2 separate regions of the Homo sapiens genome follow, and region 2 is linked to region 1. A link means that fine-mapping ties the variant in region 1 to the expression of a gene that starts in the linked region. Tissue or cell type: monocytes after Pam3CSK4. Region 1 holds a variant in brackets; the other region holds the start of a gene. All regions are shown on one strand. Distances are from middle to middle.

What was found. PIP is the estimated chance that this variant, and not a neighbour inherited with it, causes the effect.
Region 2: TMEM131 starts here. The variant in region 1 is fine-mapped to the expression of TMEM131 in monocytes after Pam3CSK4 (Quach 2016, PIP 0.95).

The regions. Positions count from the first base shown.
Region 1 is chr2:97,822,951-97,831,057 of GRCh38, reverse strand. All of the region lies in intron 11 of TMEM131 (transmembrane protein 131), which reads left to right. It also overlaps the pseudogene HMGN1P36. Among named protein-coding and RNA genes, the nearest start is that of ZAP70, 110 kb to the right of the region's middle. The variant A/T (reference allele first, on the strand shown) is at 3,966.
Region 2 is chr2:97,991,136-97,999,242 of GRCh38, reverse strand. TMEM131 (transmembrane protein 131) reads left to right here and starts at 3,295. Exons shown (of 41, transcript NM_015348.2): 1 at 3,295-3,767. The coding sequence starts at 3,581. It overlaps LOC124905591 (a long non-coding RNA gene), which reads right to left and starts at 1,600. Exons shown (of 2, transcript XR_007087148.1): 1 at 349-1,600. RefSeq lists enhancers at 2,586-2,865, 3,036-3,549, 5,182-5,261 and silencers at 3,086-3,335, 3,446-4,005.

The DNA.
Region 1 (8,107 bases):
GTGGAAACTGAGTTTTCAGAGCTCTTCTTAAGGTTTTCCCTGTGTGTTTCAGCATTTTCTGCATAATTCACCAGGCTTAGAGACTATAGATATTTAGAAAGGTTCCTGTCTCCTTTTGTTTCACAAACATAGAATTTTCAGGATTTGCTAAGCAGTGCTAGAAGCTGGAGATCTTTTTTTTAAATTCCCCTTCAGGGAATTCATTCTCTTTCTAAATATAGGATTACTAAAGCAAGCAATTCCAAATAGAAGTTCCTCAACTGCTAACAGACAGGATGCGCAGGTCCAAACTCTCCTAATATGTCTATAATGCAACTTTGAGAAAATGGCTTTCCTCAGCATTTACAAAACATTAGTGCTGTATAAATGATGGAGTAAGTTTGCCTGAGATGCCTTCAGAGGAATGTTTGCATGAGGTTTCCCTTGGTAATTAACAAATCGGAATCATAATATCAGCTTAACATATGCTTTAGTGAACTCATACACAAATTATTAGAAATACAATGTTAAATGCTGAAAGTGCTTTTTTCCTTATTTGCTCAAGTGCTTTTATAAGCAGTTTTAGAATGTTCCGGACCGTTGAATTTCACTTGAGGGTTACTGAGCATTAGTTGGGTCTGAATGTTGTGAGAAAAGCCTAGAACTATATTTAGAACATATGCAAGCTTGCGAACTGCCTTTCCTGGGAAACTTGCAATAGTTTTATACTTCTTGATTATCTTTGAGTTAGCAATAGTCACTAACAGGTTGTTGTATAAATATGCTTACTACAAGGTGTTGATTGTGTATGAGTTGTCATTTAAAGCCACCAGAATGGGCCAGCTACTTAAGTGTTTTGTCTTGGGTTTGTTTGTTGGCTTTTTGTTTCCCTGGAAAATGGGTTTTAACAATTTGGGTTTGGTTTTTTTTTTTTTTTTTTTTTTTTAACTGATAATGAGTGAAGAATTCAGACCATTTGTATAAAACATGAGTTTTCAGTTGAATATTTCTTTGTTATTACTGCAGCGTATTTTAAGGTAGCAATACTAATGTAAAGTTTTTATCTGGTAAGGAAAATCTTAAAGTGGTGTGTTTCACATGAAAAAAATTTCATCAACTATTTTAAATTCTTACTAATAGTGACTATATTTTAACAAACATCCTTGCTTTGCTATTTCTGGCTTGGTGTTGTACAGGCTGATAACACTCAAAAAATATTGTGCTTGTTGTTGATGAACTCCCACTTCTAGCCTTTAAGCATATTGAAAAATGGTCAAGCCTTCATTGTGTGTCCAGAGTTGGTTCCTTCTGGTGGGTTCTTGGTCTCTCTGACTTGAAGAATGAAGCCATAGACCTTCGTTGTGAGTGTTACAGCTCTTAAAGGTGGTGCGGACCCAAAGAGTGAACAGCAGCAAGATTTATTAAGAGCGAAAGAACAAAGCTTCCACAGCGTGGAAGGGGACCCTAGTTGCCTCTGCTGGCTTGGGTGGCTAGCTTTTATTCCGTTATTTGGCTCCCCGCCATGTTCTGCTGATTCGTCCATTTTACAGAGCGCTGATTGGTCCATTTTACAGAGTGCTGATTGTTGCATTTACAATCCTTTAGCTAGACACAGTGCTGACTGGTGCATTTTTACAGAGTGCTGATTAGTGCATTTACAATCCTTTAGCTAGACACAGAGCGCTGATTGGTGCGTTTTTACCGAGTGCTGATTGGTGCATTTACAATCCTTTAGCTAGATACAGAGCGCTGATGGGTGCATTTTTACAGAGTGCTGATTGTTGCATTTACAATCCTTTAGCTAGGCACAGAGCACTGATTGGTGTGTTTACAGTCCTCTAGCTAGACAGAAAAGTTCTCCAAGTCTCCACTCAACCCAGGAAATCCAGCTGGCTTCCCCTCTCAATCCCCCCTCTAAATAGGACACCCCAACTGCTGTTGGGAATTGGGCAATGATCATTCTAGCTACTTCCTACTGGATAAGGGCAAAGAAGGGACCCTGCAGTGGTAGTGTCCTCCAGAGGGGAACTGTCTAGGCCAGTCAAAGGGCCAGTGGGTCGATCCAGGGGTCCTTGGTAGAAGTTGTTAGTTGAGCTTATTTGGGGTTCCATTTGTAAGACCATCTGTAGCTTGATGGCCTCGATCGTAGAGGAAACAAATTTGACAAGGAGATTAAAAATACAGGGCCCAAAGGCGAGTAATAGCAAGATGGCTGTCACAGGACCTAGAAAGGGAAGATGCCATGTTCCCCAACTCCAGAGGTTGGTATAAGAGTTGGAAAGGCATTGAAAGAGTTTGAAAGGCGTTGTCTGATTTCAGAAGCCTTTTCCTGTAAACGCTGTAGTATCCCTGACTGGTTAGTGTAAAAAAACACTCTTCTCCTAAGAAGGTGCAAAGTCCTCCTTTCTCAGCAGTGAGGAGGTCTAGGCCTCAGCAGTTTTGGAGAGTCACTGCTGCCAAAGAGTCTATTTGGGATTGTAGAGTAAGGATAGATTTCATTATTTCTTGCAAACTGTCTGAGAAATCCTTTGAGAGTTTGTGGTAGTAGGATAATGATGTAGATAAACCTGCTATTCTGGTTCCTGTAGCAGTGGCCATCTCTAACCCTATAAGTAGGGGTGTTAGTTGTATGGCCCTGTGCTGAGACACTTGAGCTTTGAGGGGCACAGACCCTATGTCTGATTTCCATAAGATTAGAAGTTAGGATAATATATGTTACACTTTTTTTTTTTCATAATTGAGATTTCATTGGTTGAGGATCGTACAGACATTTCAATTTGTACACAAATCTTAACATACATAACGAAATTCTAAAAAGCCATGTATTGTAATTATTTTTTAAAGTTATTCCAGTGACTTTCCAGCTTAAAATTTGGAAGCAAATTTTCCTTAAGAGGCTATCAAGTACCAGTATCTTCACATGTTGGTCAGCTGTTACATACAGCCCACCAGTTCACAACTCAATAGCACGTACACTACATATTCAAATTTGTAATCTTTCACAGCACAGTAACAAAGTTATTAGGAAAACAGGACTACCACAACCAAAGATGTTACAGAGTGCACACAATTCTGGCAGAGAGAGCCATGATCAAAGAGTGGTTTTCTTTAGGAAACAATTCTACTAAAAAACAACATGGTAATAGAAGTAATTTAAAATGTTCAAGACATTAAATGCAGGACTGACTCCATATTGCCATTTAATATGCTTTGTATTATAGGATATAAAAACTAACCCCCCATCTATGGAATGTTAAGCTGACACCCGAGACAATCAGAGCCTCCCATAATTCAATATCCCACACTATTTTCTGGTTGTACCAAAAAATAAACAACCAGCAAATGATTTCACCTCTTAAAAAAAAGCATTTACACTTAAAAAATGGGATGAGGTGGGATTCCCTCCTTCTTAAAAATGTTTCTAGAGCTACTAAAAAACTTGCATTTACAAAATAGTTGATAAAAATATTCCTCTGGATTGTACAAGAAGGGAGACAGGGACCACTGATAAGACATGGTATATGGTTATTAATCAGACTTGGCTTCTTTCTCTCCTGCTTCATCAGAGGCTGGACTCTCCTCAGTTTTCGTTTCCCCATTTTCTGCAGGTAAATCTTCTTTAGTTTCTTGGTTAGCCACTTCGGCCTGTTTTCCCTTTGCTCCCCTTTTCCCTTTTGTTTGCACGTTTTTGTCTGAAGATTTATCCTTCGCTGCTGCCTTTTTCGGCTTTGCTTCCACTTTTGCAGGAGGTTTAGCTGACAACCGCGCCGATCTCCTCTTGGGCTCTTCCTTGGCAGCGGCTTCAGCGGAGCTGACCTTCCTCTTGGGCATCCTGGCGGCGGGGAAGGCGCGTGCCAGGTGCCTGCGGGCCGCGGCGCGCCAAGAGCCTTCACGAAACTGGGCTGCCTTGCCGCTGCCACTCCTCCCCAACACTGTTAACTTTTAGCAAACTTTTGTTGAAAACCTTGTAAGTTTGGGATTTTAAA[A/T]TTTTTTTTTTTTTTTTTTTTTTTGCTTATCACTTACTGAATACCCATTGTGTCTTTTTCCCTTAATTGCTTGGGAGGAACCATCTATCGTCCTGTCCTGAAGGGAGTTCCTCCTAGGTCTGGTCGGACCTTTGTATAGTAATTAGTTAAGATTTAGATCCCCTGTTAGGAAACCTGCTGGGTTAAGGATTTTTGATAGGAAGGCTACTGGTTGTCAGTGACCTCAGTGCTTTCAGGCTATGTCCTTGTTTACTCTGACAGCAAGGTGGTATTGGAGTGTTATAGGGTTACAGAGAAGACCTTCAATTATCAATTATAGGTTTTAAATTTACCCTGGCTTTTAAAGGACTAGGGTACACTTTTTTCTTTACTACTTCCATTTCTTTTTCTTTCTCTTTGACTTCTTTTTTGTCTCTCTTTTTTTCTCTTTCTGACTTCCTCTTTGTCTCTTCCCCTCTCTCACTGTTTCTCTTTCTCTCTGACTTCCTCTTTGTCTCTGTCTCTTCCTCTCTCTCTCTGACTTTCTGTCTCTTTCTCTCTTTCCTTTCTGCTGGTCTTTCCCTGCCTCTGCCAGCTGCTTATGCTGCTGTTCTCCCTTCTCCTTCCCCTTTTGATGGCTTCGGCGGTGTGAGACTGCCACCTCTTTGGATTTTTGTACTGCGTGCAATAACTCCATAATTTCCTTGTGGTATTTAATGGGGGTTCCCCTAGAGGTTAGGAACTCCCTTTCTTTCCATATTGCAGCATGGGCATGTAGGAATAGATAAGCATACTTGCTATCTGTATACACACATTTATTCTTTTTCCCTTTCTCAGTTTTAAGGCTCAGGTAAGTGCCACTAGTTCTGCTAACTGGGTGCTGCTCCCTAGGAGAAGAGGCTTACTTTCAAGTACGGTTGCATCATTAACTATGGCATAACCTGCCCTTCATATCCCATTTTCCACAAATGAACTTTCATCAGTATATAGGTTAAGTTCAGGATTAGCTAAGGGGACTTCTAAGAGATCATCTCAGGTGGCATAAATCTGGACTATAATTTGTCAGCAGTCATGCTCGATTGGTTCCCCATCCTCTGGGAGAAAAATGGCAGGGCTGAGGGCCACACATGTACATATTTGAAGCACCGGTTGCTCAAGGAGTAGCATCTGCTATCTAAGTAGGCGGTTGTCTGATAGCTATAAACTTCCTTTGGCACCTACTATGCCATTTACATCATGAGTAGTCCAGACAGTGAGATCCTTTCCTTGTATTATTTTGATAGCCTCTGACACTAAGATGGCCACTGCCACAACCACTCATAAACAGTGAGGCCAGCCTTTTGCTACTACATCAGTTTTCTTACTTAGGTATGCCGCTGGTTGTGGGGTTGTCCCACGAGTCTGAGTAAGGACTCCAAGAGCTATCCCTGCTCTCTCTCTGACGTATAAAGAGAAGTGTTGTCCTGTGAGAAGGCTTAAAGCTGGAGCTTGTAGTAGGGCCTGCTTTAAGGTTTTGAAGGCTGTTTCTGCCTCTGGTTCCTATTCTACTAGATGAGTATCTGCCCTCTGGGTCTCCTTGATTAGAGCATAGAGTGGTCTGGCCATCTTGCTGTATCCGGGGATCCATAGTCAACAAAAGCTGGTGATGCCAAGGAACCCCCGTAACTGTTTTGTCTTAGGGTGAGGATAAGCCAGTATAGGCTGTATTCATTCCTTGCTGAGGGCACTGGTCCCTCTAGCTAAGATTAGGCCTAGATATTTGACCTGCTGTAGGCAAAGCTGGGCCTTCGACCTAGATGCCTTGTACCCTTGATTAGCTAGAAAGTTCAAGAGATCTAGAGTAGCCTGCTGGCATGAGGCTTCCGAACTGATAGCCAAAAGTAAGTCATCCACATACTGAAGGACCAGAGTGCCTGGACTTGAGAAGTGGCCTAGATCATGGGCCAGTGCCTGACCAAACAGATGAGGGCTATCCCTAAACCCTTGGCATAAGACCGTCCACATAAGTTGGGACATGTGGTCTGTGGGATCCTCAAAGACAAAGAGAAACTGGGAGTCAGAGTGCAGGGGAATACAGAAGAAGACATTCTTGAGGTCCAGAACAGTGAACCATTCTGCTTTCTCTGGTATTTGAGAGAGCAGGGTATAGGGGTTGGGTACAACTGGATATAGAGGAATTACTGCCTCACTGATGAGTCTAAGATCTTGCACTAGTCTAAGATCTCCACTGACCATTCGGTTTTTGTACTCCTAGAATTGGGGTGTTGCAGGGACTGCTGCATTTCCTTACTAAGCTTTGAGCTTTTAAATGTTTAACAATATCCTGTAATCCTTTATGAGCTTCAGGCCTTAAGGGATATTGCCTTTGATAAGGAAAAGTAGTGGAGTCTTTTAGCCTGATTTGAACTGGGTGGGCATTTTTTGCCCTTCCAAATTGTCCTTCCAATGCAGAGACTTCAGGGTTGATTCCCTCCTCAAGTAGGGGACAACAAATGGGTAACTTGTTCCCCATATTCATGTAGGTAATAGCTCCAGCTTTGGCTAATATATCTCTCCCTAATAAGGGTGTGGGACTTTCAGGCATAACGAGAAAGGCATGTGAAAAGAGCAAAGTCTCCCAATTACAACTCAGGAGGTGGGAGAAATACCTGGTTACAGGCTGTCCCAGGATTCCTCGGATGGTAATGGACCTTGAGGACCGTCGTCCAGGACAGGAGATTAACACTGAGAAGGCTGCACCAGTGTCCAGGTGGAAGTCAATTTCCTGGCCTTCAATGGTTAAACGTACCCAGAGCTCAGTGAGGGTGATGACATGAGCTGGCACTTGCCCCGGGCACCCTCAGTCCTGCTGTTGGATTATCTGGTTGGGGGCTTCTGGCCTAGAGAACCTTTGCCCTCTGGGGCAGTGTGCCTTCCAGTGATTGCCTCAGCATAGTGGACATGGGTGAGGGGGTGGCTTATTTTTCATTGGACAATCTTTTTTAAAGTGTCCTTGTAAACCACACTGATAACAAGCCCTACCAGGTGATTGGCCTGCTCAATTTTCTTTCCTCTCTGAACCACCAAGGTTTGTTTGAGGGCCTTGACTAAGGCTGTGGCCTTTCTCTGATCTCGCTTTTCCTTTTGGGCCTGTTCCTCTTGGTCCCTATTATAGAACACCGAGGTTGCCAGGATTAATAATGCCTCCAGATTTTGTTCAGGGCCCAGGGCTTGCTTTTGGACCTTCCTCCTGTTATCTGTGGCTGATTGGGTAATAAACTCATCTTTTAGGATCAGTTGACCCCCAAGGGAGTTGGGTGACAGGAGAGTATATTTCCTTAAGACCTCCCGTAGCTGCTCGAGGAAGGCAGAAGGATTTTCTTCCTTTCCCTGAGTTATGGTGGACATCATTGAATAACTCATGGGCTTTTTCCTAATTCTTCTTAGTCCTTCCAGAACACAGGTCAGCAGATGTTTACAACTCCAGTCCCCATGATCTTGAGTCTAGATCCCAGTGGGCATCCATACTGGGGATGGCTTGCTGACCGGTAGGGAATTTGTCCCTTTCTTCAGCTGTCATTCTATCATTTACTTGGCTAAGACACCAGGTATCTCCAAATTCTTGGGCTGCAGCTAAAGCCGCATTTTTTTCATTAAAGGCCAGGGTTTGATCTAACAATAGCATGACATCTCTCCAAGTGAGATCAAAGGTTTGCCCTAGACCATGTAGGACATCTGTATACCTATCAGGATCATTTGAAAGCTTCCCCAGGTCTGCCTTGATCTGCTTTAAATCAGAGAGGGAGAAGGGGACAGGTACCCAGGTTGGGCCAAATTCCTCTCCCCCTACAGCTTGAAGGGGACATAACCGATAGCCCGGGGAGTTTTGTGGTACCTTGGAGATTTCTTTGCTTGTTTCCTTCTGGGTGGGGGAAATTAGAGGAGGCTTATCATTAATAGGAAGGTGAACTATAGGGAGGCTAGGATATGGGGGTAAGCTGAGAGGTCCTCCTGTGGGATGTAAATTGCAAGCTTTGCATAGTTGTGGATTCTCCGTCAATGAAAAGAAAGCTTAGAGATAAGGTATTTCACTCTACTTGCCTTCCCTCTTACAGAAAAGGTCAAGCTGCAGGATAGTATTATAATTTATACTTCCCTCAGGTGGCCATTTTCCCCATCAGAGA
Region 2 (8,107 bases), 170 kb before region 1:
CATAGAAGGCATTCTTGCACACCTCCTTAAGTATTTTGTGGAATGAAGTGGAGGTATCAATGGATCAAGGATCTTCGTGCCTAATGTGGTGTTTTGAAAAGAGTGAGTGCTCACTAATAGCTACTTTTGACAGTCTCCTATGTCCCAGACACTAGTCTATATGCTTCACAAACCTATATGCTTAATCTCCCCAAATTTATATCATAATCCCCATTTTTACAGATTAGGAATCTGAGGCCAGAAAAGTCATTTGCTCAGCATCATATAGCTAGTAAAGGCAGGGATGGGATTTAAGTTCAAATTTGTCTGAGTCTCTTATAATTCTGCCTTGAATGGTAAATTACTAACCTGCATAGAGAGCAAAATGAACAGAAAGTGAGGAGTCCCAACAGCTTGTAGCTCCTGGCATATATCACTGTGCAACAGTCTTCAATCTTGAGCCTGTATCAGAATCACTTGGATGCCTTGTTTAAACAGATTGTTGGACCTCAACCCAGAATTCCTGATTCCACAGGTCTGGGATTTGGCCTGCTAATTTGCACTTCTAACAGGTTCCCAGGTGTTGCTGCTACAGCTGGTCTGGGGATGACACCTTGAGAACCACTGGTTTAGCGAGTTTTCCCTGACTCTGCCAGCTAATACCTCCACCTGCCAAATGGCCAGGTCTCTCCAATTTCCAAAAGGGAAAAAGAGAAAAGTTCACAACTAATCAGAACTATTTGAGAGTCCTTAGTGTGATGGTTCCTTCAATTTTAACTCCTGGTTCTCTCCTGAGACACATGAGGGTTGGGGAGTGGGGGTAGAGGATCATAGGGTGATGGTGGCTCCACGCCAGGTTCTCTCTAACACACAGTTTACCATGCTGTCTAGCAAAACGTCTTTCACTGTTAGACTCTCAGTGGCCTCATTGTCCTTTCCTGGGAGGAAAGTTCCATCATCACCCCTCCTGCTCCTAGTGTCCCTCAGGCACAGGGGAGGGTTCAGGTATGGTGGGCCTTAAAAGCCTACCCAACTATTGGGAGGGCTCCTTTAAGAACAAGAATACAGGCTTATAAATACACAATTAGGTTCAGGGACTTGGAAGGAACTTGTGCAAGAGAGGGGGCCCTGCGGCTTAAGCTTCATTAGCTGCATGGGAAATCGAACTCTGATCAAACATGTCTGTATACGTCTAAAGATCCAATTACAGACAGGTGCAAGTTATTTCCCATGGAGCTGCTGAGCCTCAGGCTAACCAGGGGATGTGGCTGATTGCTGTGTAAGAGAACCTCAGCACTTCATGGTTGGAAAGGCTTGTTTGTCCTGAATCTGGCCATGGGGGAAGGGCTGCTGACTTGCAGAGCTAGCACGTTGGAGGCTAAGCAAAAGCGCTCAGTTACATATCCTTGGGTTTGATCTCTTCCGTGAGTCAAAAGCCTTCCAGAAATCTCTTGCCTCAGACATTTTAAACGCCAACTTAAGAGATAATTATTCCTATTTCATTACATCAAAATAAAATTTGACTACTCAATTTTAAGGCTAATATTCAAAAAAGTAAAATTGCTTATGATTAATTTTTTGAGACGGAGTTTTGCTCTTGTCGAGGGTATAGTGCAGTGGCGCTATCTTGGCTCACTGCAACCTCCACCTGCCGGGTTCAAGCGTTTTTCCTGCCTCCGGAGTAGCTGGGATTACAGGCATGCACTACCACGCCCGGCTAATTTTTATATTTTTTAGTAGAGACGGGTTTTCACCATGTTGGCCAGGCTGGTCTCGAACTCCTGACCTCAGGTGATCCGCCCACCTTGGCCTACCAAAGTGCTGGGATTACAGGCGTGAGCCACTGCGCCCTGCCCTAAAATTGCTTTTTAAAATCATTAGGCTAAGGTCATATTTAAATATATATTAATTTATGAATAAATTTAAGTGCTTGCTTGACACAGGGGACTACTTCATAGAGTAGATTCTGGAGTTCCTTTTGTCTTTCTGAAACCTTATTTTCCTATCTAGCTTGTTCTGAGACGTACTGTGGGCAGACTTGGCCTTACACATATATCGACTCACTCAACAAATACAGCTAAGGAAAGTAAAATGTCTCTGGGCTACAAGCTGGGAGGAAGTTACTAAGATGAGTAAAGAAGGACCCCCTCCAAGAGCTTAAATTAAGTCTTGGAGACAACAGCCATGCGCACCAAGAAGCTCAACCTAAGATGAAAAGGGCATCTAAGAGGCGCGAGATGGCTCGTGAAGGTAACAGACGTCTTAAGAATTTTTCCGGGCCCAGCACAGTGGCTCACGCCTGTGATCCCAGCACTCTGGAAGGCCGAGGAAGGCGGACTGCTTGAGCCCAGGAGTTCGAGACCTGCTCGGCCAACATAGTGAGACAGCGTTTCTTAAAAGAAAAAGAAAAATTGGCGTGGCGTGGTGGCGGGTGCCTGTAGTCCCAGACCGCACCACTGCACTCCAGCCTGGGCGGCAGAACCAGACCCTGTCTCAAAAATAAATAAATAATTAAAAAATAAAGAAAAGAAAAAAAAGAATTCTTCCTCGAGAGAGGAAGCCGGCTACTGGATATTCTAAAGAGCAGTCTGTTTGCCCCTGCCTTCTCCATCCAGAGTCACCGACGCTTTCTGCACACGAGGTGTTCCGCGCCAATGTGGGCACAAGCCAAGGCAAGAGGACTCCATCAAGCTCCTCCTGGGTACCATGATTTGGAAGACCCAAGGATGAGTTCAGCGGGCCACCATCCTCAAGGAAGCACCATCAAGAACTGAGTCAGGCCCGGGGTATTCTCGACGTCAAAGCGGTCGAGAGGTGGGGGTGCCACCAGGAAGAGTCACTGGAACGGACCTTCCGCGCTCGTCTCGCGGTCTGTATGCGCACTCACACCCCTGGAAGGCTCTACCACTGTAGGACAGAGCACGGAGGATTGCCCAGGCGCCGGAGAAGAGGTTAGCGCCCCGCAACTCCGCCCCTGCCCCGCCCACGCAACGCGGCGGCTGCGCGGCGAGGCCGCCCCGTCTCCACGTGATTGCCGACACCGCCTCCGCGAAGCAGAAGCCGCCATCATAAGTCCTGGCAGCTGGACCTGGGCCTGCCTCCCTCCTTCTCCTGCGCCAGGTAGCGGTAACGGGCTGGGGTTGTTCTGTCCTGGTTCTGTCTGGCCGTGAAGCCGCAGGCCTCCGAGAGCGGGACGAGGAGGTGGGGCCCAGGGGGCTCCGGGGCGGACAGACTGACCGCCGGACAGCCCAGGTGTCGGCACAGCGTGGGCGGTGCCCAGAGCCGCGCCCCGCCCCTCGCAGGCCAGCGCTCAGGGCTCGCGGGCCGTGCCCGTTTCCAGTATGGCCGCCCGCCGCGCCTGACCCGCGGCCTCTCCGCTCCGACTGCTTGTAGGCGATGCCCAGGCAAAGACCGTGACTGACACTCTCGCTCACACGCACGCACGGACCCAGGCCCACGCTCGGAGATCGAGCCCCGGGCTCGCAACCGTTGTCGCTCCCGGCGCCGCGGCCAGAGCCCGGACCACGGCTTCCGCGCCGCCGCCGCCTCGCCGAGAAGGGCCGCGCCGGACCTCGAGCGCGGCGGCCCCCGGCCGGCAGGGATGGGGAAGCGGGCGGGAGGAGGAGCAACCGGAGCCACCACCGCCGCCGTCTCCACGTCCGCCGGGGCCGGGCTGGAACCTGCGGCCGCCCGTAGCGGGGGCCCGCGGAGCGCGGCCGCCGGCCTCCTAGGCGCGCTGCACCTGGTGATGACCCTCGTAGTGGCTGCGGCGCGGGCCGAGAAGGAAGGTGGGTGTCCCCCGGCGGCGTCCCTGCGGCGGGGCTGTCACCCCGCTCTCGCGGAGGCCGGGAGGGCTGGGCCGGGAGGAAGGGCCGCGGCCGGGGCTCCGGCGCAAAGTTGGGCGGTCGGGTACCGTCCCGAGCCGGGACCTCGCGGCGCCCGCCGCACGGAGTGGCCTTCGCTCTCCGTGATTCCTTCCCGTGCCTTCCCCCGTCTCCTGTCACTGCCATTTCAAAACTTCCTGACTTCTCGTACGTTCTTGCCACTTGGCCCGCTAGGTAGGAGGGGCATATTTTTTGGCTTTATTGCGGCGAATAGGTACATTTTAGGACACTTCTGTTTTCTTGGTTGCGGTTGGTTGCATGCAGACAGAGCTTACTTTAAAATGTGGTAAAAATAGCGAGACACAGCTTAAAAAATTTCACTTTGAATTTGTTCAGACATTTCTTCGAGGGGAAATCTTGGTCCTGTAGCTTCCTCCTTTAGTGTCTCTGCGTTATTGATAACTTTATTATTAGACCTAAATACAATTCCATTTAACTCTTTAGTAAGCTGTTGAAAGCCTGTTTACATTTCTTATTTTAAAATACGTGATTCGGTGCCTTTATCTTTGATGTGAAAGCCTTTAAAAATAAACGTGAAGTTGCCAGCTTGCAAGCATTTATCTATAATTTACAGTTAAGGGCTGGCCCCTATTTTAAAAATCTCATTAGTATTGTACTGCTGCAAAACGGGTACTTGGACAGGGTCAAAAATTATTTTGTAATCTTGAAGACCAAATCAGTGTAATTTCATCTACACTACCTCTTTTTGAGCCAAGGGACATGTGAATGGTCACAGAGCCTTCATGAAGAATTGACTAAGTGAATAGTTTAAAAAAAAAACAAACCACGCAAAACTTGTTAGTTTAGCATTGCACATGAAACTGCCTGTACAAGAAAACAATTTCTTGCCACGGTAATTTTAGAGTTAACATTCTACTTTATGACTAAAGTCACTTGCTTTTTATTGTTGCTGAAGGTGAAAGCAAATACAAACCAAATTAGTATTAAAGTGCAAATGTGCTTCAGTATACTGTTTCTTTTATTTTTGTCCACATTACATTCCCTTATCTAACTCTCTAAGCAACCTTAGTCTGAGTTAACATTGGTGGAAATTATTCAAAGAATTGTCGTCTATAGAAAGGATTAATTGATGGAAGCAAAATTATTTCCAGAATAAAATATTGCCGCTTTAGGACTAGTCGGTCCTGGGGTTGTCATAATACATCATTGGCCACAGATCTGCAGTTAGTTGAGTGTTCTTTCTTATGTGTGATCGTGGCACCTAGCATTTTGGCCTGTAGTGGGTGTTCAGTGAACCCAAAATAGTGCAGTAATTTAATGGACATTTTTTGGGTGGGACTTCAAGTAGACCTTGGTGGGTATTGTGTCCTTGTTTTTCTGTTCCTTTGCTTACCTTGCACAGTGCCAGACACACTGGCGCTTAGCCTTTGAGTGAATGACTGTCTTCATGCGCCCTTAGCACAGGGAATTGAAATAATGGTTGAATCTAGTAAAGCATTAAGTTTGTATTTTCCTTCTACTGCTGCTGATTTTTCCAACAGCCATTTTATATGCTAATAAAAACTTTACTCTGGGTAAAGTTAAGTAAACAAACCTTTTGTTTGAGAACTGTCAGCCTAAAATATATTTGCTAATTTCTCATTTGCATAGTTTATACATGTTAGTGCACCTCTCTAATACCCATAAATGTGTGTAAGGATTGGATGAGGAGAATACTTGCCAGGGTGTTAAGTATGTATTAAAGGGGTGGTTGAATCAGCCAGTGGCCTGGGTGAATCAGATATCCTTTGTGGCCCATGCTTTTCTGTATGAACAATTTGTGTGTGCGGTTATCCAAGATATTAATGGAGATGATGCTGATATAGAACATAGGCCTCTACCCATCATAAACAGATCTGGTTCTAATCAAATATTCTGTGAAGGTATCTCCAGAAATGGCTTCTCCTTTAAAACTGATCATATTCCAGTATTGTTTCTGAGTAAGTAGGGGAAAAGCAATTTATTTTCTTACGTGATTGTGACACTGTGAGTCTGGCATCTGATGAGGCACAAATACAGTATTTGTCCTAAAAGGTACTGTTGAGTTTTTCAGCAAGTTTGGGCAGATTTCTGAAGATGGCTGAGTTCAGTTTGATCATTCACACCCGGAGGAATTTTGTGTCTATTGAAGTAGCATAAACTAGTTTAAAATTTCAAAGTTAAGATTTACCTGCAGTTTTAATGATGATTCTGCAGGTATTTTGTATGTTTGTATTTCTTTTCCTTCATTACTGTATAATTTCACTGCAAAATCTTTAAAAGACAATAAAACTCATTGTCTCCTGAAGAAAAGCTGCAGAAATAAATTACCTAATGTAGTTTTTCATGTTTGGACTTGATGTTGATTTTCTTGAGTCAGAAGCATGGACCATTCCTTGTCTTAACATCCTATATGACTTAACTGAGCTATGGGAGTGTGCTATCACTAGTCCAGAGGAAAGGTACCTTTGAGATGGTTTTGGCTGTGATGTAAAGTTTGTAAGGACTTTGAAAGAGTTTCCAGAGATAGAAGTTGTTATAATCACTACAAATAACTAGTTCTAGATTGGTGGCAAGATTTTGTCTTGAGGCTAACATCTAGATACTGAGAATAGCAAAAATGTGTGTGAGTTGTGAAAATATATTTTTAAAATATATAGTGAAAATACATGTGTATGTGTATATATTAAATGTATACTTTTAGTAGTCTTTTGAATTATAAAGCAGCCCATTATGACTGGCAAATAAGACCTTTTTTAAAAAAGCATTATATATCATGTAATATAATTTCATTGTGAAGTGGGTTTTTGGAAGGCATTTATTATAAATGAGAAGCTATAGTTTATGTATCTAGTAAATATAAATTCGAATAAGTTTTCAAGAATGTTTCAATTTATGACAATTTAAATTTCATTGTCACATGTTTTATTAATTGGCAATTAAATGGCAGGGTAACGTTTGACAGCCTTTATTAGGACTTTAAAAATTTTTTGCCAGTGTACTATAGTTTCATGCACAAATTTTTGTTTTAAGCTGTATTTGTGACATAGGTGCAAAACACAGTACAAAAGTATTTACAAAGCATATGAGAAAAGTGCATAGGACTAAAGACCACAAGAAAACAGATAAGAATCTAATAGTTTTCTAAGGGTAGCCAAATTGACTAGGAGTGTTATTTACTTTTTCTTAACCAAACTATTTTTAACCTACTTATTACTCGATAATGTTAAAATGTTTTTGAAAGTGATTTTCTTAAGAGTGAGATGTGTTAACCCTTTGTATGGGGTAGAGTGGGTACCTTTTAATTTAGGGCCTTGTAAATAGAATGTTATTTAATAAGTGCTTCACTAATGAACGTTTGTAGCCTGCTTTTACTAAAGGCTGTTGCCTGATGGAGCATTGGAGTTTTGTAGTTGGAAAAAGTGTGTCCTTTTTTCCTCTTGCTAATGACCATTTTCCTCCTCCTTCTAATTCTTACAGTGGACCCTCATAGACATCTGCCAACAAGATTGCTTTGGGAGTAGATGTAAACTCATCTAATTGTTACTATCCAGAGTAGCAATAAGCCAAATTACTCTTGGAGGAAAATAAAATCTTTGCTAGGTGCTTGATATTTTAGGTGTTCTCTCTCTTGCCTATATGTGACTCAAGCGCTCTGATTGGCCTTGCCAGACCAAGAGGCCCTTTTCCTACAGCTGAATTTTCCCCTACGGTCTCTTGTAAGCAGCATCTGGCATTGTTTCGGTGACTCTGTACTTCTCGGTTCTGGTTGTGCCCTAGCTGACAGTTGCTGCTCTCCAATTGCCTGTTGGTTGTCTTCCTCCCTGTGTGTGTCTAGCTGCTGGTGCACACTGCATGTGTCCAGGGCAGAATTATCTTGCGCCACCTCCAGTTTTCAGTTTTTTATTAATGCTATGATTATTCTGCCTGCCCCACTGGATTCAGTTTTGACCCTTCACCAAGTGGCATCAGTGCCTGTTACATCCTCTTTTGATCACTCTCCCACTGCCTTCACCATGGGGCACTGCAGCAGCCTCTCTCCTACCGCCTTTCGCCATTTCTGTTCAGTCCTGCATGCTCCCTCTGAATTTGTGGTCTTTGTTAATCATTCATCATTCATTTTGACACCTAATTGTGTACTGCCTTGTTAGCTACTTAAATGATTTCAGGGGTGTCATTCTTCACCTAGGCTGGAATTTCTGTAGGGCAGAACCTTTGTCAACATCTGTAGTACATAAATAGCAGGCATTCAGTTTTGATTGAAA